6 linked regions of the Homo sapiens genome follow. The protein of the gene in region 1 purifies or fractionates together with the protein of each later gene. This does not show direct contact. Each region holds a gene or a part of one and is shown in the gene's direction. Other genes may lie near its edges. The genes, in order: KHDC4, CALML5, SERPINB5, EXOC3, TRIM29 and SERPINB2.

Region 1 (2,434 bases):
CCCAGTACTAGGATTTCTGCTTTCTGGAATTCATTTTGGTTAGGTTTTTTATCCTATTCAACAGACTCTTGAAAGCCTCTGAGAGTTCTTACTTTCTTATACATCTCACTCAAAGCTCTTGATCTACCAGTATGTGGTTTGTATTTAAAACCTTGGCTTTCAGTGGTGCTCTCTCTTTTACCCTCCACCTAAAAAAGAGAGTGATATCTCCCTCCAGTCTCCCCACCCCTCAAGACTGCTAGAAAAGGAGTGATTCTGTACATGTAATTGTAAAGTTAGCCACTAAAGTTAAAAAGATTCTTAATTTGTAGTTTTGGTGCAATTTTATCAGAAGTACCTTTCCATTTTGCCAGAATCCTTGAATCATTCTTTAAACCAAAGCATTTTTTTATAGTTTCTAGCTAGGTTTATAGAAACTAGTGGAGCTATGGGCAGTCAGTTAAAAACAGGCCATAGATAGCATAATGAATTATAACACCCCTGTCCAAGTCCTATAGAGAAAAAAAAAAATCCCTACTTTTGACTACAGTTACACAGCAGATCCCAAAGAGCTTTGTAGTAGTTTAACGTACTACAACTTATCAGAAAGATGAGGCACTTGACAGTTACATTAAGGAGCTAAAGTCAATACGGCAGTTGTAGATTTGCTAATGCCACTGTATTTTTCTGCTCATAGCATGGACCCATTCATATGACTAATTTAGGTACAGGCTTCTCCAGTCAGAATGAGATTGAAGGTGCAGGATCGAAGCCAGCAAGTTCCTCAGGCAAAGAGAGAGAGAGGGACAGGTAAGTTGGAATAATTATGCAAATGTATTCAGATGTTATTTGTTTGCACCATTAGTGAGAGTAATGATCATTGCTATGAGCTTAAGTATTCTGAAACTGAAATGAAATCTTTGAATCAAATATGCTTCTGTTTGTTGTAATTGATGCAATGAAGTAAAATATGATAGGCCTTTTACAGATTTAGAAGCAGTTATATTCGGTTTTGAATAATTTATTACTTGTTCAGACATCTTTCTTGACTTCCATTGTCTGCATCTTGGCCATTTTCCTAAGGGTAGACAGTAACAGAAATGTTACATAATTCAGCTATTTTTGCTACTTTAGAGTCATTAGAATATCATGGATGGAAGTACATGAATGTGGGAGTTCAGCCTGCCACACAGTGCTTGAATTTTCCTTTCTTATATTAGTATATTAACCTTCATAAGAAAGGAGCTGATATCTTTCTATAACAGTTCATTCGATTTTTGTCATGGCAATTGCTGTGTAGACAGGCCTTATACTTTTATAAAGGGGCTGGGGGAAGGTGGAAGGGGTTGAAATTAATGGTTAAAATGAATTTGAAGGATTGTCTGCAGACATAATTGCACTTCTAATCCACTGGATAAGTTAAGAAAATTTAAATTGTCTGAAAGAAAGTTTCATTTTGTTTTTCAATAGGCAGTTGATGCCTCCACCAGCCTTTCCAGTGACTGGAATAAAAACAGAGTCCGATGAAAGGAATGGGTCTGGGACCTTAACAGGGAGCCATGGTGAGTGTGATATAGCTGGGGGAACAGGGGAGTGGCTAAGACTGGTCTAAAGCTATTAGTTTTCTCAGCCGGGCGCAGTGGCTCACGCCTGTAATCCCAGCACTTTGGGAGGCCGAGGTGGGCAGATCACCTAAGGTCAGGAGTTCAAGACCAGCTTGGCCAACATAGTGAAATCCCATCTCTACTAAAAATACAAAAACTAGCGGGCATGGTGGTGGGCGCCTGTAATTCCAGCTACTCAGGGGGTTGAGGCAGGAGAATCGCTTCAACCTGGGAGGCAGAGGTTGCAGTGAGCCAAGATCAGACCACTGCCCTCCAGCCTGGGCAATAGAGCAAGACTCCATCTCATAAATAAATAAATACATAAATAAAGCTATTAATTTTCTAACCTGATGTTCATTCAGGTGTTTAATCCAACCTCTATAATCTGTTGGCCAGTGAAAATACTTTTGGGCTGGGCACGGTGGCTCACGCCTGTAATCCCAGCACTTTGGGAGGCCAAGGTGGGCGGATAACCTGAGGTCAGGAGTTTGAGACCAGCGTGGCTAACATGGTGAAACCCCGTCTCTACTAAAAATAGAAAAATTAAGCTGGGCATGGTGGTGCATGCCTGTAATTCCAGCGGCTTGGAAGGCTGAGGCAGGAGAATCACTTGAACTTGGGAGGTGGAGGTTGCAGTGAGCCAAGATCACACCACTGCATTCCAGCCTGGGCACTAGAGTGAGACTCTGTCTCAAAAAAAAAGAAAGAGAAAGAGAAAATAGTTTCTAAAAAATTGTATACAGACAACCTTTTATTTCCAACAAACGTGTGCCGAGAGAGAGAGAGAGAAAATAGTTTTAAAAAAATTGTATACAGACAACCTTTTGTTTCCAACCAACGTGTATCTAGAA
Region 2 (2,623 bases), on another chromosome or scaffold:
GAATAAAGGAGTTTGTTCCCTGTGTACGGGCAGGGGCTGGGGAGAAGAATGGGAATCTATGGAGATCAGAGGGGACTTGCTTGGGAAAGGCATTTTGGGGACTCCAAGGCAAATGTCCCCTCACAACTGTAGATCACATCAGTGGAAGGACTTGGGGATGGTCCCCCGAAAGCTTAGCTGTTGCTCTAAAAGTTGGTCAAGGCAAGTGGCCCTGGGGGTTTCCTTCCAGAGAACAGATCAGATTGAGGACCCCAGTAGGCTCCCAGATGGGTCTCTGTGCTTAGGGCTGATGCTTAGTAAAACCACAAGGAGGGCCAAGTTTGATGGCAGCCACCTGTTCTGCATCCTCCTGCACCTCTGCCTGCACCTTTGGGGTATGCTGGGCACTGAGGTCCCCCGTGTCTCGCTGCAGCAAAACTCCAGCTGTAACTGTTTGACGCCCTGTGAATGGAACGCCTGCCACTGAGCTCCCAGGGTGTCTGCACAGGGAACCTTGGACTTGGCGATGGAATTGAATTGTAGGAATCCCTGAGCTAGAAGGGAGTATTCTGGGGAGACAAAAAGTCTTTCCCTCTCCTCTGAAACTGCACGTCACATGTTCACTTGATAAACACCATCTCAGCACCAGCTATGGCTCTGAAGGCAGCCCTGGTCCCTTGCTTCCTTGAAGTTATAGGCAGTGAGCCCCATCCTCTGTCTCTAGACCCTGGCCTGGGAATCTCATGATACCCACAGTTGTGCCCTGGCAGAATCAACACTACCACCCACTTCCCTTCCACCAGCCCCAGCCTCAGGGCAAGAGCTAGGCAGTAGCACTGGAGAGAGGGGTACGGAAACACCAAACACTGGGGCCTGCTGTGCCCTTGAGGGAGCCCTCTTCAAGCCACCTCCCCCTCCAGTCTCAGTCTTTGTGAAGTTGCAGAAGCTGTCTTGAACCCCTTGGCTTGGTCAGGATCTCCGAGAATCAGCTGCAGGGGAAACTATCCCTTGGGCAGAATGTTCCTGGAGGGAGGTGGTTGCTATCAAGGCCAGGCGGGGTTGGCAGGCTAGCCATCCGATACCCCGACCCCATGGCAGTTCCCACCTGGCACCTGACAGCTCTCCCAACTCCCATTCCTGCATTTCCTGTCTGCAGCTGATCTGGCCCTCCCTGGGAGGAGGCTCTCACCCCAGGGCATTTGGAGGGTGGGGAGCCTCCCTCCTCCCTTTGTTCCGATTGCAGAAAAGGAGGGGGTTCCCATGCCAAGGCAGAACTGTCTGGGACAGACGCTGCCCGGATCCCTGCGGCTGCCTGCACTCTGGACCACGAGCTCTGAGAGCAGCAGGTTGAGGGCCGGTGGGCAGCAGCTCGGAGGCTCCGCGAGGTGCAGGAGACGCAGGCATGGCCGGTGAGCTGACTCCTGAGGAGGAGGCCCAGTACAAAAAGGCTTTCTCCGCGGTTGACACGGATGGAAACGGCACCATCAATGCCCAGGAGCTGGGCGCGGCGCTGAAGGCCACGGGCAAGAACCTCTCGGAGGCCCAGCTAAGGAAACTCATCTCCGAGGTTGACAGCGACGGCGACGGCGAAATCAGCTTCCAGGAGTTCCTGACGGCGGCGAAGAAGGCCAGGGCCGGCCTGGAGGACCTGCAGGTCGCCTTCCGCGCCTTCGACCAGGATGGCGACGGCCACATCACCGTGGACGAGCTCAGGCGGGCCATGGCGGGGCTGGGGCAGCCGCTGCCGCAGGAGGAGCTGGACGCCATGATCCGCGAGGCCGACGTGGACCAGGACGGGCGGGTGAACTACGAGGAGTTCGCGAGGATGCTCGCCCAGGAGTGAGGCTCCCCGCCTGTGTCCCCCTGGCTGCGCTCTGAGCCTTCAGGGCCACCGCCCGCTGCTGCTTTTGTGCTGGGACTCTCCGGGGAAACCTGGTCGGTGGATGGGAAACTGCCTCCCCCTGGGAGGAAGGCTTTGCGCTCCGGGGCCTGGATGCGGCGCCCTCGGGCCGCCTGCGAGCCCCTCTCTGCCTCCAGACCTTGGGCAGAAGGAGGCCTCCTTGGGCCTGGTCCCCCTTTGCCCTGCAGTGGAATGAGGGCCCCTCAGCCCCGCATTGATCTAAATAAAGGACTGCCGAGTTCCATGTGTGCTTGGTGTTTGTGGGGCGGCTGCCTCCGAGGGCCCCCACCTGCTTCCAGGGTTCCTTCCAGCCCACCCCTCTCACCTGCGGTGGCAGAACTGCCTGGAGCAGGCCCCAGGGGCAGCTCCTGCCTCCCCTGACGCGGAGCAGAGGGCAGGTGGGCAGAGGATGTGTGAGGATGGTGCTGGGCGGTGTCTGTGGCTCCAGGTTCTGCCTGAGCTGCTGGTGAGGACCTGGGCACGTGTCCCGCACAAACAGGAGCGGGCGCCTCGCATGGACAGACGGAGCCCAGCTGCCAGCCTCTGCACGCAGCCTGCCTCTCTTCGGCTGCAAATAATATACGTGTACGTCTGTGTGTGCATCTGTGTGTGTGTCTGTGTGTCTGTATGCGTGTCTCTGTATGTGTGCATCTGTGTGTAAGTCTCTGTATGTTTGTGTGTCTGTGTGTCCTTGTGTGCATCTGCATGTGTATGTGTGTATCTGTGTGTGTGTCTGAGTGTGTC
Region 3 (3,956 bases), on another chromosome or scaffold:
ATGAATGAAGTTTGGCACTTACCTTTAACATTGTTGTAGTCACATATAGGAGAATGTAAGAGATTATTATGAAACAATGTAGTAAATGTACAATAGGGAATTCTAGATAAGCACAGCAGAGAAGCAACCAGCTCCGTTTCAGGTCCTTTCCTGAGACTGATTCGGCTGGAAGGGAGTAGGTCCCGCCAAATGAAGAAGCTGTGGGAAGACAGGAGGACAAGAACAGGCTCCACGAAGAGATTTCAGAGCAGAGCTGCGTACTCCTTTTTCTTTTTGTTTCTTTTGCTCTGTCACCCAGGCTGAAGTACAGTGGTTAGCTCACGGCTCACTGCAGCTTTGACCTCCCAGGCTCAAGTGATCCTCTCGTCTCAGCTTTCCAAGTAACTGGGACCACAGGCATGCATCACCACACTAGGCTATTGTTTTACATTTTTTGTAGAGATGGGGTCTCACCATGTTGCCCAGGTTGGTCTCAAACTCCTGGGCTCAAGCAATCCGCTCACGTCAACCTCCCCAAATGCTGGGATTACAGGCGTGAGCCACCGCGCCAGGCCTGAGTAATCCTAATCACAGGATTTTAAAAAGAAACTTCCTGCGCCACCCATTAAACAATATCTCCTACCAATTTGGTAGTAAATATTTTGCTAATAGTACCTAATTTTTAGGTAGGCACTGTGTTTATACATATATCCATTCCTTCTTTTTTGATTGTCTTTCTGTTTAATGGGCAGCTACCTCTCTTGGCATCTAGCAGAATGAGCTGCTGCAGTTTACACAAAAAGAATGGAGATCAGAGTACTTTTTGTGCCACCAACGTGTCTGAGAAATTTGTAGTGTTACTATCATCACACATTACTTTTATTTCATCGAATATTTCACCTTCCGGTCCTGCGTGGGCCGAGAGGATTGCCGTACGCATGTCTGTACGTATGCATGTAACTCACAGCCCCTTCCTGCCCGAACATGTTGGAGGCCTTTTGGAAGCTGTGCAGACAACAGTAACTTCAGCCTGAATCATTTCTTTCAATTGTGGACAAGCTGCCAAGAGGCTTGAGTAGGAGAGGAGTGCCGCCGAGGCGGGGCGGGGCGGGGCGTGGAGCTGGGCTGGCAGTGGGCGTGGCGGTGCTGCCCAGGTGAGCCACCGCTGCTTCTGCCCAGACACGGTCGCCTCCACATCCAGGTCTTTGTGCTCCTCGCTTGCCTGTTCCTTTTCCACGCATTTTCCAGGATAACTGTGACTCCAGGTAAGCAAGGTGGGGTAGCAGGGCTGGTGACTTCCTTTTTTCAGGGAAATTCATAAATATCGTTATTTGAGCTGATTTGAGATGGTGAACAAAATGGACTTAGGTCCATTTTGGGGCTGTTTTCAAAGACGGGCTGTTGGGTTGAGTACTGTCGCCTCTCATCCCCCATGTTGGCAGTATTTCCAGCTCCCAACCCTTTGAGCACCAGGAACACTGCAGAGGGAGTAAAATCACTTAACCATACAAGGTAAGAATATGAAGAAGTCACGTGGCTCGGAGGTTTTGGTGGTAGAGGGGTGCAACCGTGATTCACGGAGGAGAAAATACTTCTGAGGACATTTTCAGGCCTACTTTGGAACTCAGAATGAATTTTGCAATGCTAGTTTCAGAAAGGGTGTGGTACCCGCAAACTGGGGAAAGTTGAGAAGTATTGGTGGGTCTGGCTGGCTCTTCTCCCTGGCTGACGTTGTAAGGCTGAGATTTAGGCATATGGACTGCCCTTCTTTTTGGCATTTTTAAGCATCAGATCGCTGTTCATCTACTTGCAACTGCATTCTTCTAAGCGGAAATTATTCTCCCTTCAGTTTTCTGGGTTTCAGCATAACTTTAAACAAGTTACACATTTCAGATGCATATTCTTGGACTTATAAATTGTAATAGCTGCTTGTAGTTTCTTACTCATATGCTGTACACTTTTTCTTATGGCTTCATTTAAGCATATCATACTAAAAACCAACATGCCAGGCTATTCCAGAGACTTGTAACCAGATCCTCAGAGCTGGGGGCTCTTAGACATATTTCAGCCCAGCCCCCTCATTCTGTAGATGAGGAGCAGAACTCACAGAGGTGATCTGGTGTCCAAAGGCACACAGCTTGTAAGTAGCACCGCTGAGATCAAATCAGGCCTTCACACTTGCAGCTCGGGATGTTTCCACAACACCGTGGGTTCTGTTACCATCTTTTTCATCCCCTACATCTCCCGGGAGGTTTTCGATAATGGGTTCCAAACCTCAGTCCCTGTCAGTTAGTGTAAGTGTTCGATGAGTTCCTTCATGGGTGGAGATGAAGCCTGTCTGAGGAAAGGAGTCTCCAAAGGAAATGAGTCAGCAGGTTTATATCTTTGCTTCCTAACGCCTTGAATTGTGCCACTTCAATCCCTCTGGGTTGTGGATTGACTTTGGGGCTATGCAGTCTCAGCGATTTGGGCCATTCTGGTGTGGCTGAGTCTGGCTGTAAGTTTACTGCTTGGCAACAGTGGGCTGGGTCAGTGGTCAAGATCAGGCTTCTAAAGAGACAGGAGCAGCTATGATGCTTCAGAGCAAAGCAGACGCCCCCCTGCCATGGGAAATTAAAGCAATTACTAATAGCTGTATTGTACTTTCTTGCCCACAAAGCACTTTTCATATACATTGATTCACTTAATCACTTCGTTTAGTCCTCATAGTCTTTCACATTGCAGAAACTTCAAAATATCCTATTTTCTTAATCCTGCACATCCTTTGCTCCTCAAAGACTTAGAATGTGGACAACAGAGGTTGTGTTTTTTGGCATTCCATTACTGATATTATAATAGGCAAGGTTTCTCATGGCATTCCCTAAGGACTGGTTATACCAAATACTTGAGAGATGTTTTTCACCATGTCTTTCCATCTTTAAAATGAGGCAGGCCAGGCTAAATGATATCTACGATACTCTGACACAGTAAAAACGTAGTTTTTTTTTTTTTTTTCTTGAGATGGAGTCTTGCTTTGTCACCCAGGATGGAGTGCAGTGGCACGATCTTGGCTCACCGCAACCTCACCCTCCCAGGTTCAAGTGATTTTTCTGTCTCAGCCTCCCAAGTAGCTGGGATGACAGGCACGTGCCACCACGCCCGGCTAATTTCTATATTTTTGGTAGACACAGGGTTTCACCATGTTGGCCAGGCTGGTCTCGAACTCCTGACCTCAAGTGATCTGCCCGCCTTGGCCTCCCAAAGTGCTGGGATTACAGGTGTGAGCCACTGTACCCGGCCAAAAGTTAAGGTTTTAAGGGATGAAAAAACTATACTCATAGCTCTGTTTAAATATGCACGCCCGTGATGTGTGGGTGAAGAGTGTGGTTGATGGTCTATAAGTAAAATGAACATATATTGTTCAAATCAGGATATGTTTGAGAGTAAACGGGGCACTGTTATCAATGTCAAGACAACAGACATAAACCAGGATTGTCCCAGGCAAAGTGGGATGTATATATCCTACCCACAGGACTTTTTTCTCACCTAAATGGTCTAAAGACAAAAAATGTGAGGACCATTGGCTCAGATGCATAAAAAACTTAGGAAATCTTCATACAAAGACCAGTGACAAGCTATAAGTCTAGAGAAGTGAGCACGGCCCTACCCCCAGCCCAGTACATGCGTCTCCATTCACTGGGGCCTCTCTGAATTGAGTCAGTTCTCCCTGTCCCACGTTTTTGCAAGGCTAACTCCTACTTATCCTGTAGGACTCACCTTTAATGTGACTTACTCAGTTGTCACTGTCTCTGAGGAGGTGTCACTGAGGTTTCTAGTATGGGGGGTCTGTCACTCCTGGGGATCCCATAGTGACTTGGGTGCTCATCAAAACACTTAAAACAGTCATCATACCACTAACTGACAGCTCCTTGGAGGCAGGGGCTATGTCGTTTTCACCTTTTCTTAATGCTTACCCTGACACAAATTAGGTACTCAGT
Region 4 (3,500 bases), on another chromosome or scaffold:
CACGCAGTCTGGGAGCCAGTGGGGTGATGCCACAGAGACCCCAAAGCCCTCGGCCCCTGCCCTGCACTTTCCCCTGAGCTGTGGGCCGGCTGTGACCAGGAAGTCTCCAGGGTGGTGGACATTCATGTGTCAAGTGAAACAGTCTCGGCACACTTGGGCATGCTCTTCTGTGTCTGTCGTGGTTTGTCACTCACATTCCTGGTTCCCCCATAGTACTGAGATGATGAGGAACGTGGAGCTGGCCCCGGAAGTGGATGTCGGCACCCTGGAGCCATTGCTTTCTCCACACGTGGTCTCTGAGCTGCTTGACACGTACATGTCCACGCTCACTGTGAGTAGGGCTGGCCTGCGTGCCACAGACCACCGTGCTGGTTATATGAGTAACTAGGGCTTGGCAGCAGGCAGGAGGCAGGGGGGAAATGCCTTAGCGTTGACTTCCTAGGATGCATTGCTCAGTTGCCCGGGCTCTGCTTCCAGGCCTTGACAGGTCAGTTTGCTAGAAGAGGAGAATGGCCCCTTCTCTGGGCCTGGATCTGAAGCTTGTCCTCTGCTGGAGACGTGAGCCTGTGCCCTACTCGGCAGGCTGGCCAGGGCCCAGAACGTCTGAACCGTGTGTGGCAGCACCTGCCAGGCTCTCGGCTCTGAGTCCCATGGTTGGGGGGGTCCGTCAAGGACCAAAGGGCGAGTCCATTTGCAGCCTGGTGACCACCAGGTGGTCTCAGAGTGAGAAGAGGAGGTCAGCAGGGTCTGCTTCTTAGACAAGGGTGCGTCCACCTAGCAAGGCAGCATTATGACCAGAAGCCGAGGTGTCCTCAGGAGCTGGGGAAGGAGCGCTGTCTTCTCTTGGGACGTGAGCTGCTGTGGTTGCTGAGTCTGGGCATGGGAACAGGCCTGACCGGACCTGGTCGGCCTCATTCTCTGTGCACCTGGGATTCAGCGGCCTTGTCCTCCAGCATGAGGTGCAGCCAAAAGGGCATCTAGTTTCTTCTCCCTCTTTATCTGTACCAAGGGTTCCAGTTAAACCCCTGCGGGCTGCTGTGGTCACTGCCTCCCATGGGGGTGGCTCCTGGGTCCCTGCTCTGGAGTCCTCATTTGAGAAAGAGGACGCTGGTGCCCTGTGTCTGGTTTGTGGAGCTTGTGCATGCAACTGACCAGGTAATTGGCATGACCCTCAGGCACCTGCTCTTCTCTCTTCTCTTCTCCATGATGCTGAACTTTCTTTAGTCAAACATCATCGCCTGGCTGCGGAAAGCGCTGGAGACAGACAAGAAAGACTGGGTCAAAGAGACAGAGCCAGAAGCCGACCAGGACGGGTACTACCAGACCACACTCCCTGCCATTGTCTTCCAGGTACCACCTGCAGGGGACTGGCACAGTTCCGTTTCCTAGGTGGATAGTGGGACCTGTAGGTTTTACAAAGTGACACAGATACCTGGGATCTTCATCCACAGAGTGTAGTAAAAATATTGAGAGCCCTGCCTGGTGCATCTAAGTCCTCTCCTCTCTCTGTCTCTTACTCTCTGGAGCTGCAGAAACCTGGGATGATACTTACCAAATAGTTTTGCCCAAGGTCACTTTACTTTTCTGACCTGGTCTTTATGGGTTTGGACTACAGCCTAATTGTATGTTATTTATGTGCGACTTTCAAATGTGAGTTTGTTTGGTCGATATCCAGGATTTGTCCTAAAAAATGGCACATGATTGAGTTTAAACAGGTGGATTTTGGGAGCGTCCATTATTTTTTTTGAGACGGAGTCTCACTCTGTTGCCCAGGCTGGAGTGCGGTAGCACAATCTTGGCTTACTGCAATCTCTACCTCCTGGGTCAAGGCGTCCATTAGCTTTTAAAGTTGCTTTCCTGTTCATTGGTTAAGGTTCTAAGTATTAGACCGACCTGCATTTTTACCACGGATTCACTTTCCAACGCCCAAGCCTCACTAGGTGTTAGAACCGGTGTGTTCTTACCACGGATTCACTTTCCAGTGTCCGACCGCCCTGTGTCCCGTTTTTCCTGCTCTTTTTTTCTTTTGGCACATCATGTGTTTTAATTTGAGTGGCATTGCTGAGGGATGGAGCCCCGTTGTGTTAGAATCCTCACTCAGGACTCTAGTTAGGCAGGAGTGAGGGCTGGCGGGTGACATTTCTCTCTGAATGATACCGTTAGTTATTGACAGGCTAGTCCAAACCCTTTCCTTTGTTTGGAAACAGATGCCGTGAGAAACTGTGAGGAGAGCTCTGTCCCCTTGCCCTTCCTCTGCCTGGGTCAGCTCCTGGCAGGGCCTGGCACACCCCAGGTCCAGATTCTTAGGAACTCTGCATCATGACAGTCATGGGGCCAGGGAGGGTGAGTCAGGTGCCTGAGGGGCGCCATCCCGGGTGGGGCCTCACTCCACACATTAAAACTCCAGTCACGTAGTGTGAGGACAGACATGGCCCCCGTGGGAGAAACCAGTTTGCCAGGAATTAAGAAATGAGTCACTTGGTACTTTCCCAGGTGAGAAAGTTGTTTTTTTTTTTTTTAAACTAACTTTGTTATTTTTCACGTGGTTTCATTTTTTTTTTCTCTGAATTTGGACTATCCTAAATGCCAGTTAGCAGATGGAGGTTTCATATAACAGCAAACCTGCACTCTTAGTATACTCCTGTAAGATTATACCAGAATTCATAAGTTCTCTGATTTTTAGATGTTTGAACAGAATCTTCAAGTTGCTGCTCAGATAAGTGAAGATTTGAAAACAAAGGTACTAGTTTTATGTCTTCAGCAGATGAATTCTTTCCTAAGCAGGTATGTCTTTCTGCCAGTGTGCTAATGTACACATTGAATGTTTTTAAAAATTAGAAGCAAAAATTTTTTGATCCTACTATGCCTGTTACTAAGAAGAAATTAAGCCGGTAGATTCCCCACGTGTCACTCCTGTGTTCTTCAAAAGCAAAGGGAGGGAGCGGAGCTTCTGGATCATCTTCCCCTTGAGTGGACCACACACCCCCTTGGGCTCCCAGAGCTGATGTGTTGTGACGTCCTTAGCGATGCGCCGGATGACACCAACTCTGTTGGAGTCAGGCTCCTCCTGTTGCCTGTTCTGAACTTCCTTGGGGTGGGGGTGGCGACTCCTGCCGCAGTGCCTACTTCGTAGTGGGGAGGGCGTCCTCGGCTGAGCCGGCCCTCCTCAGAAGGGCTCCAGGCAGCCATGACCTGGCACGCCACCCTCCCCATGAGTTGTTGATAATTTTCAAACCTATACAGATGTGGAAAAGAGTTTAAAAAACTGTGTTCACCCATCGTGCAGTCCAGAAGCCATCCCCTCCAAAGCCCCCTTGCCTAATCTGTTCTCCCCTGCCCATTCCACTCTCTCTGCTGAAGTACCTTCAGGCAAACCCCGGGCGCTGTGGCATGGTATTTGCGACCCTCTCTGAAGCCACTGCAGTGCCATCAAGTCAGAGACACATGCACGGTGACTCCGTGGGGTCATCCGATGCCAAGTCTGCGTTTGGGTTGTATCT
Region 5 (3,500 bases), on another chromosome or scaffold:
TGGTGGTATCAGTCCCCACTGCTTCCTCACAAGGCTGTTGTGAGAGCCCAGGTGTGCGGGAAGGAAAGCACTTGTGAAGTGAGGCTCTGATCTCCCGGGAAGCAGCAGCCTGGGTGGGCCCCTGGGAGGTGTTTCTGGCTCATTAGGCCACTTCCAGGAGGCCCCACCCTCACGTGGCTGAGAGCCTACTGCTTCTGCCCTCGTGGTTGCCATGGCCTCTCCAAGTTTATGCTGATGCTCTCTGCACGGTTACTAACAGAGTCCTTCTACTCTCAAAAGCATGCCAATTTGGGTGATAAATTAGTTGATTGACTTATGTCAGACCCAAAGGACTTCTCTCAGTGGTGGAATCCAGGTCCTGTGATGGGCACTTGGGCAACTTTTTGGGGGCAAGGAGTCCTGATGAGACAATTTTCTGCAATGACAGCCCCCTTCATCTGCTTCACAGGTGGGGTCCGGACATCATACCAGCCCTCGTCTCCTGGCCGCTTCACCAAGGAGACCACCCAGAAGAATTTCAACAATCTCTATGGCACCAAAGGTAGGTGGTGGCTCAGCTCAAGGGTGCACAGAGTTCATGTGGGGCTGTGCAGGCAGGAGGGGCATAGAGGTGGGTCCAGGGGCACAGGGCTGGGACCCCAGTGTGAGATGAATGTGGGAAGCTAGGATGGGTGGAGGGTCCAGGCATGGGTAGGGAGGGGTCCTACCTACCGAGCTTAAAGTGTGTGTGTGTGTGTGTGTGTGTGTGTGTGTGTGTGTGTGTGTGTGTACATGTGTGGGGGACACCATTAGTTAGGCTGGAGGAAAAACAGCCAGGAATCTCGGCATCCCTGGAGATCCCTGAGTCTGTGTGCTCTTCTGATCCCTGAGGAAGGATCTGGGGAAAACTGGGTCTGAGCAGCCACCTTGGGCTTAAGTGTGGGGAATGCGCCACCCCCCCCACAAGTATGAGGGCACGAGGACCCAAAGAGAATCTCTACTGATTTGAGTACTTCTGCAGTGAAAAGTCGTACAGTGGTTAGTTGTCAACTTGGCTGTGACTGGAAAGGAAGGCACGGCAGGAAATGGGGCTGGCCCTGGAGCTCCAGGTGGTGAGGCAAGCGAGCAGCACCTTAAGACCCAGATGGGATGAAATGGGTGTGGGGATGTGGCTTCCCCAGGGGAAGCTGCTAAGTTCAGGGTCTCCCTCTGCCCAGTGCTCTGAGGGGACCATTTGCTCAAGGGCAGGGCCATGCATTCAATGAGACCTGGTTCTGGGAGACCCTGGTTCTGTCCTGGGGGCTCCTGGTCACATGCCAGCCATGCACAGGGAGGGAGGGGACTGGGTCAGCCCCCACCCTAGACATAGCACTGGAGGACTCTTCAGTGAGGGCAAGACTCATGGAGACTGGAGGGTCAGGGGCACCAGAGCAATGCCTGGGCCTCTACATCCAGAATTGGATTCACAGCCGTGATCAGCGGCACCCCTCCTCCACATATGCAGTAGACCTTGGGCACCTTGAGGACAGAGCTGTGTCTGTCCTGTTCGCTGCTACAGGCCCAGAGCTCAAAAGTAGGAGGGGGTCAGGAAGCAGTTGTTGAGAGAGAGGCTAAAGGCATGAGTGAACAGGAGGGCAAGGTGTCTGGCCTCGCGGAACCCTGGCTGGACGTGCTTACTGAGGCCTTGCTACAGAAGCTGCCTGGGATCCCTGTGGGAGGGCTTTGCACAGGGGCAGGTGGCCAACCCCAGCCATCTGTGACCCCTGAGCCCAAAAGTCAGCCCCCAGCCCTCCCCACAGGCTGCTAAGGAGTGAGCTTGACTAAGGAGGTCACTGATGCTTCAAGCCTGGCAGGTGGGGGTGTGGTGCTGGAGAAGTGTGCGTCACCCATGGGGACTCTGAGCCCCCCACTCCAGTGCCCTCTGAGTGCCCTGGCAGCTTCTCCCACCCCTTTCCCACTGCCTTCTTCTCCTCTGGACTATAGAACATGTCTGCACATAGGCATGTGTTAGCCTATTCAACTTGGCAACTATCAACTGTCTTGTCCCCAAGTTTTAGGATGTGTTTGTATTCATTCGTTCGTTGGTTCATGCATTCTATCCATCAACCATACAATGAGCACCTTCCAGGAACCAGGCTCTGTGCCAGGCACCAGGTGTGATGCAGGGGCCAGACAGGCACATTCCCAGTTCACGTGAGCTCACTGCGGGAGACAGACAATTGAACATGTAATTGCGACCCAGAGGGTAGGGGTTGCAGGACGATGTGGGGATGAAGCTGAAGGCACATGCAGACGTTGGGAGGTGCCATGTAAGCTGACACTTGAAGACCCCACCCATGAATCGCCGAGGGTGGCAAGCAGGAGAAGTGTCCTAGGCAGAGGACAGGGTCTGGGCACATAGCCTGGGGCAGGAGAGAAGATGGAGTGTCTCAGACACTGAGGCTTAGCCTGGTTTGAATGTCCAGTGGTGGAGGGAGGGCAGAGGTGAAGTCAAGAAGTGGGAGATGGTGGGTGGGTGGTGGGGGTTGGGGGAGCAACTCACGACAGAGCTCTGGGCTGCTCTTGGGACTTTGTCCCTTATTCTGAGGACAGTGGCCTTTAGGTAGGGCAGGGACAAGACTATGCTTTATATTTTAGAAAGATAGCTTTGGTGGCAGAAGGATGGGGGTGAGGCGTCACTGGGATCACACAGTGGCATCCTGGCTTAAGTTGTGGCCAGCGGCTAGAGAGTCATAGACCTGGCTGTGTCCTGGTCCTGCCTCCTCTCCCACTCCCAGCTGTGGGGGCCTGACAGCCCTTCTTTGTCCTGCCAGGTAACTACACCTCCCGGGTCTGGGAGTACTCCTCCAGCATTCAGAACTCTGACAATGACCTGCCCGTCGTCCAAGGCAGCTCCTCCTTCTCCCTGAAAGGTGAGCTTGCCCACCCTGGCCCCTGCTTTCCTCCACAGCTGCCTCACACCTCCCAAGCCCTGCTTGGGTCTCTTCGCTGAGCTGCTAGTTCCTCCCTCACCTCGTGGAGGAGAGAGGCCTGGCCTGAGAGCCCGGGAGCTACCGCCATGGTCTTTGCTGAAAATGAGGGCAGGGGTGGGGGCTGGGCCACATCAGCGTTTCCCAGGGCTTGTTTCACCGCTCTCTAGTCTCTAACTACACGCTGCAACAACAGCTCTCAGTGGTCAGGACCGGGGGACATGCCATACCCCCTGCACTCGACCTCTCTGATCCTCAGGATGCTGCTTCTCCTACTGCAGAGTTTATTTAACTCCCAGCGTTGGCTGGCTCTAGGGTCCTGTGGCCATGGGGCACCTGCCAGCATCCTGCAGATCCAATCCTGCAGGCGCCCCTTTGGGAAAGGCAGGACCAGACGACCCTAAGTCCCCCCAAGGCTGATCCTCTTTTCCTGCACTCTGTCCCCCGCCTGCCTGTGGTGCTCCCAGCACTCTGACAAGGCAGAGTGATTGACGCCTCCTGTCCCCTGGGGTTGGGGGCATCCTGAGGGGGCAGGCTTGAACCAGACTCTGG
Region 6 (3,500 bases), on another chromosome or scaffold:
CTTCTAGTCCTCCCAGTAATGAACACCCCAGTATAGGAAGTCTTTTTTAGTAAGGCTGTGGTATGTGTGGTGCATATAGGGAAGGGGTTCTGGGATAGGGGCTGGGTGAAACTCCAAACCTTCAAACAATGAGTCAAAGTCACTTTAGAAGCAGGAAAGCAGAAAGAAGATTGACCGTCTTACCAGATGCAACAAGGTATGTATGCAGGTGGCATATATTTCAATATGTGTATATCTTCCTGTGTGGCAGTGTGTGTGGTGTGGATGTGTGCGTTGTGCTTGTGGGGGCAGCATAGAAGTTGAGAGCATGATCCTAGGGTCTGCCTATCTGGCTTCAATTCCTACTCCTGTCCCTATATATTGTCATTGTTATTCTATGGAATGCCACAAAGTGTCGCTGCTCATCATACAAAACACTTCATGTATCTCAGGACTGGCTATGTAATTTACAGCGTCTGGTGCACAATGAAAATGTGGGCCTTTTGTTTAAAATTATCAAGAATTTCAAGATGGCGATAGGAGGGCATTTGGCTAAACAAGGGGCTTTTTACGGCTGCACAGGTGGTATGTCCATGAAGCTGTCCCTGACCTGCCTCATGTTGTTCCATGAGGAAGAACAGACAGGGAATCTGTCCCTACACAGAATGCAGCCTGTCCTACTGTTGCTGACCTCACCCAAAATGTTACCTTATGTTTCAGAGCTGTTTTTTTCTTCCTCTCTTTGCTTCTAGATTGAAACAATGGAGGATCTTTGTGTGGCAAACACACTCTTTGCCCTCAATTTATTCAAGCATCTGGCAAAAGCAAGCCCCACCCAGAACCTCTTCCTCTCCCCATGGAGCATCTCGTCCACCATGGCCATGGTCTACATGGGCTCCAGGGGCAGCACCGAAGACCAGATGGCCAAGGTGAGTTTGAGCTGAAGCTCCACATTTGGGCCGAGTAGTTCCTGAATGGAATTGGAGAACTGCTCTTGTTTTATGCTAAAGACATTTTAACTCAGGAGGTCAGCAATCATCACAGGTAATGAAGCACTGATCCTTACAACACAAATTCCTTAGATTCAAATCTATAAGACAGCCAAGCCCCCGAATCCCTCAACTGTAGCTGTTGAAGGCATATGGGAGTTGAATAGCCTGCAAGGCTGGACACAGTTATGAGTGACCACATCTTATATTTTAATAATATAATATTCTTATTTTTCAAAGTTAGTGTTTTGTACCCATTATCTCATTCAGTTTTAAGACAGATATCATTTTACAGATGAGAGCCCTGGTGGTGTCAGAGAAGCCCCCACTGTCTCCTAACTCCTAGCCTGGGCTCCTTCCCATTACTGTGCCACTGTGGTGTTTGTTCCCTATTCCTATGAAGAATTCCTTCTAATAATGTTAAGAGAGTATCACAAAGGGAAAAAAAAAAAAACATACCAGGGTGGTGCTCACTATACCCACAGGATGCATGGATAGTGTTGTAGCTGCAGAAGATCATGCCTGTGAGGTCACGGTAGCAGAATGAGACCTGGCATTATTATGGCCAGCCCTGAAAACCAAGGTAGATGGGATGCACAACATCATTGTGAGGGATTTCTGCAAGGCCACTGCCTGCCTTCCTTGGTGAATGGACGTGGACTCAGTCAGGAAACTCTTTCCACGGAGTCTGGGCCCTTGAAATTATGCCGGACTACTTCAATTATACACTGCAATCGTTACTGTAATAGTCACTCAGCACATACAAAATTCTTGTGATCATGTTACTTCCAAGGTTAGTGACCTCGATGTGGCCATGATATCATTAAAATTCCTTTGCATTCACACATACAAACATTAACATTAAATGCTTTAAGGACACGCATGCATTGTGCATGCAGTCACACCAAGATGCCGCCGGCTGGTTTCCAGTTTCCCACGAGAATGTACCTGAGTGTAAATACATTCTTTCCATGCACATGGTGACCCATGTAAGGTGGGCCTCATTTGAAGTTTGAAGTTTCACAGAGAGAGCATTGGCCAATATTGCTGCAGGAAGACAAGGGATGGGTGAATCAATCTCTGTGTTTGTGACAGTTTAAACATTGAGACTTACAACAAAACTCAATTGCTCAACTCCCTGACACAAGTAGTCTTTTGCAATATTCTTTCCCCATTATTTTTTATTTTTTGCCTTGAAAGAATAAAGATAGTAAATTGGCACAAAAGCTTTAGAAACATCAGGTCTTAGGTTTTTTTCTTTTTTCCTTTCTTTTTTTTGAGATGGAGTCTCGCCCTATCACCCAGGCTGGAGTGCAGTGGTGCGATCTTGGCTCACTACAACCTCCAACTCCCAGGTTCAAGCCATTCTCCTGCCTCAGCCTCCCGAGTAGCTGGGATTACAGGCGCCTGCCACGATGCCCATCTAATTTTTGTATTAGTAGAGATGGGGTTTCACCATTTTGGCCAGGCTGGTCTCAAACTCCTGACCTTGTGATCCACCTGCCTCGGCCTCCCAAAGTGCTGGGATTATAGGCGTGAGCCAGTGCACCCGGCCTAGGTTTTTTTGTTTTTTAAATGTAAAGGAATCAGTAGCAATATATTTTGGGAGCAAATGCTAAATGAAGTGCTCTGGGTTGTTAAAGTAAAAATCTTGATTTTGGTACTAGAGGAAAATAAACTGATTGCTCTGGACACAAGACAGCTTTTCTGTGTCTAAGAAGTGCTTTAAGCCTTTGGGACTATGCGAGGATTCTATATAGTCTTTTTTTTTTTGAGACTCTATATATATCGTCTTTTGACAACTCTGTTGCATGTGTAGATTTTGAAATTCAAATGTTAATATGATTGCTTCCCAGATAAAAAGAAAAAGACATTTATTGGCTGGAGAAAGCAGCACAGACTTTGGGGACAGACGTATCTGTGTTTGAGTCATGGCTTTGTTCCTTACTACATGTGTGTGAGGACATTGAAACCATTTGCATCTCAGTTTTCTCATCTACAAAATGGGAATAAAAATGTGTAGCATGCAAGAAAGTTGTGAAGATTAGAGGTACTATGTAAGGCACTTAGTAGCAGTTGCTATAATAACAACCAATACTTATTAGTGCCTTAGCCAGGCATCTTTCTAAGAACTTCTTATAAATTTACTCACATAAGACAAAATATTATGAGGTAGGTACGATGATTACCGTACTCATTTTACAGATGAGGGAATCAGGGCAAGAAGAGGCCACACAGTTGAGAATTGCTGTAGCTGTTAGAAGTGGTACATTTGTAGTGAAAGAAAAGAATACATAAAAGATATAAGCTCCTGGATGGCATAGGTCTGTGGGAATTAGGATATAAGCTCTTTTCCTTACAGTGAGGCAACAGACCCATCCAGGCCAAACTGCCTCACTATTTTCTCTGTGGCCTTTGTGTGGACTAGGGGCAGCTCACAGTCCCACTTTTGCAGGGACATCTCCCTGAGTGACTTTAACACTGATTCAGGAAGGCTTTAGTGCTAGCCCAAAGAACCCTGATTTAAGGGTC

Evidence for each region.
Region 2: the proteins of KHDC4 (region 1) and CALML5 purify together in Homo sapiens (affinity purification with mass spectrometry; 2 studies listed by BioGRID and IntAct, with this or other methods). This does not show direct contact.
Region 3: the proteins of KHDC4 (region 1) and SERPINB5 purify together in Homo sapiens (affinity purification with mass spectrometry; 2 studies listed by BioGRID and IntAct, with this or other methods). This does not show direct contact.
Region 4: the proteins of KHDC4 (region 1) and EXOC3 purify together in Homo sapiens (affinity purification with western blotting, with the first as the bait; one study listed by BioGRID). This does not show direct contact.
Region 5: the proteins of KHDC4 (region 1) and TRIM29 purify together in Homo sapiens (affinity purification with mass spectrometry; 2 studies listed by BioGRID and IntAct, with this or other methods). This does not show direct contact.
Region 6: the proteins of KHDC4 (region 1) and SERPINB2 purify together in Homo sapiens (affinity purification with mass spectrometry; one large-scale study listed by BioGRID and IntAct). This does not show direct contact.

What each region holds. Positions count from the first base shown.
Region 1 is NC_000001.11:155,914,980-155,917,413, reverse strand, and holds part of KHDC4 (KH homology domain-containing protein 4), read left to right. Parts: intron 1-676; coding exon 677-789; intron 790-1,449; coding exon 1,450-1,541; intron 1,542-2,434.
Region 2 is NC_000010.11:5,498,197-5,500,819, reverse strand, and holds CALML5 (calmodulin-like protein 5), read left to right. Parts: upstream 1-1,249; 5' UTR 1,250-1,381; coding exon 1,382-1,822; 3' UTR 1,823-2,123; downstream 2,124-2,623. UniProt on the Homo sapiens protein: Binds calcium. May be involved in terminal differentiation of keratinocytes.
Region 3 is NC_000018.10:63,475,802-63,479,757, forward strand, and holds the start of SERPINB5 (serpin B5), read left to right. Parts: upstream 1-1,156; 5' UTR 1,157-1,244; intron 1,245-3,956. UniProt on the Homo sapiens protein: Tumor suppressor. It blocks the growth, invasion, and metastatic properties of mammary tumors.
Region 4 is NC_000005.10:456,676-460,175, forward strand, and holds part of EXOC3 (exocyst complex component 3), read left to right. Parts: intron 1-213; coding exon 214-331; intron 332-1,224; coding exon 1,225-1,350; intron 1,351-2,683; coding exon 2,684-2,784; intron 2,785-3,500. UniProt on the Homo sapiens protein: Component of the exocyst complex involved in the docking of exocytic vesicles with fusion sites on the plasma membrane.
Region 5 is NC_000011.10:120,117,614-120,121,113, reverse strand, and holds part of TRIM29 (tripartite motif-containing protein 29), read left to right. Parts: intron 1-448; coding exon 449-541; intron 542-2,792; coding exon 2,793-2,891; intron 2,892-3,500.
Region 6 is NC_000018.10:63,890,705-63,894,204, forward strand, and holds part of SERPINB2 (plasminogen activator inhibitor 2), read left to right. Parts: exon of another isoform or gene 1-196; intron 197-731; 5' UTR 732-740; coding exon 741-908; intron 909-1,916; exon of another isoform or gene 1,917-2,015; intron 2,016-3,500. UniProt on the Homo sapiens protein: Inhibits urokinase-type plasminogen activator. The monocyte derived PAI-2 is distinct from the endothelial cell-derived PAI-1.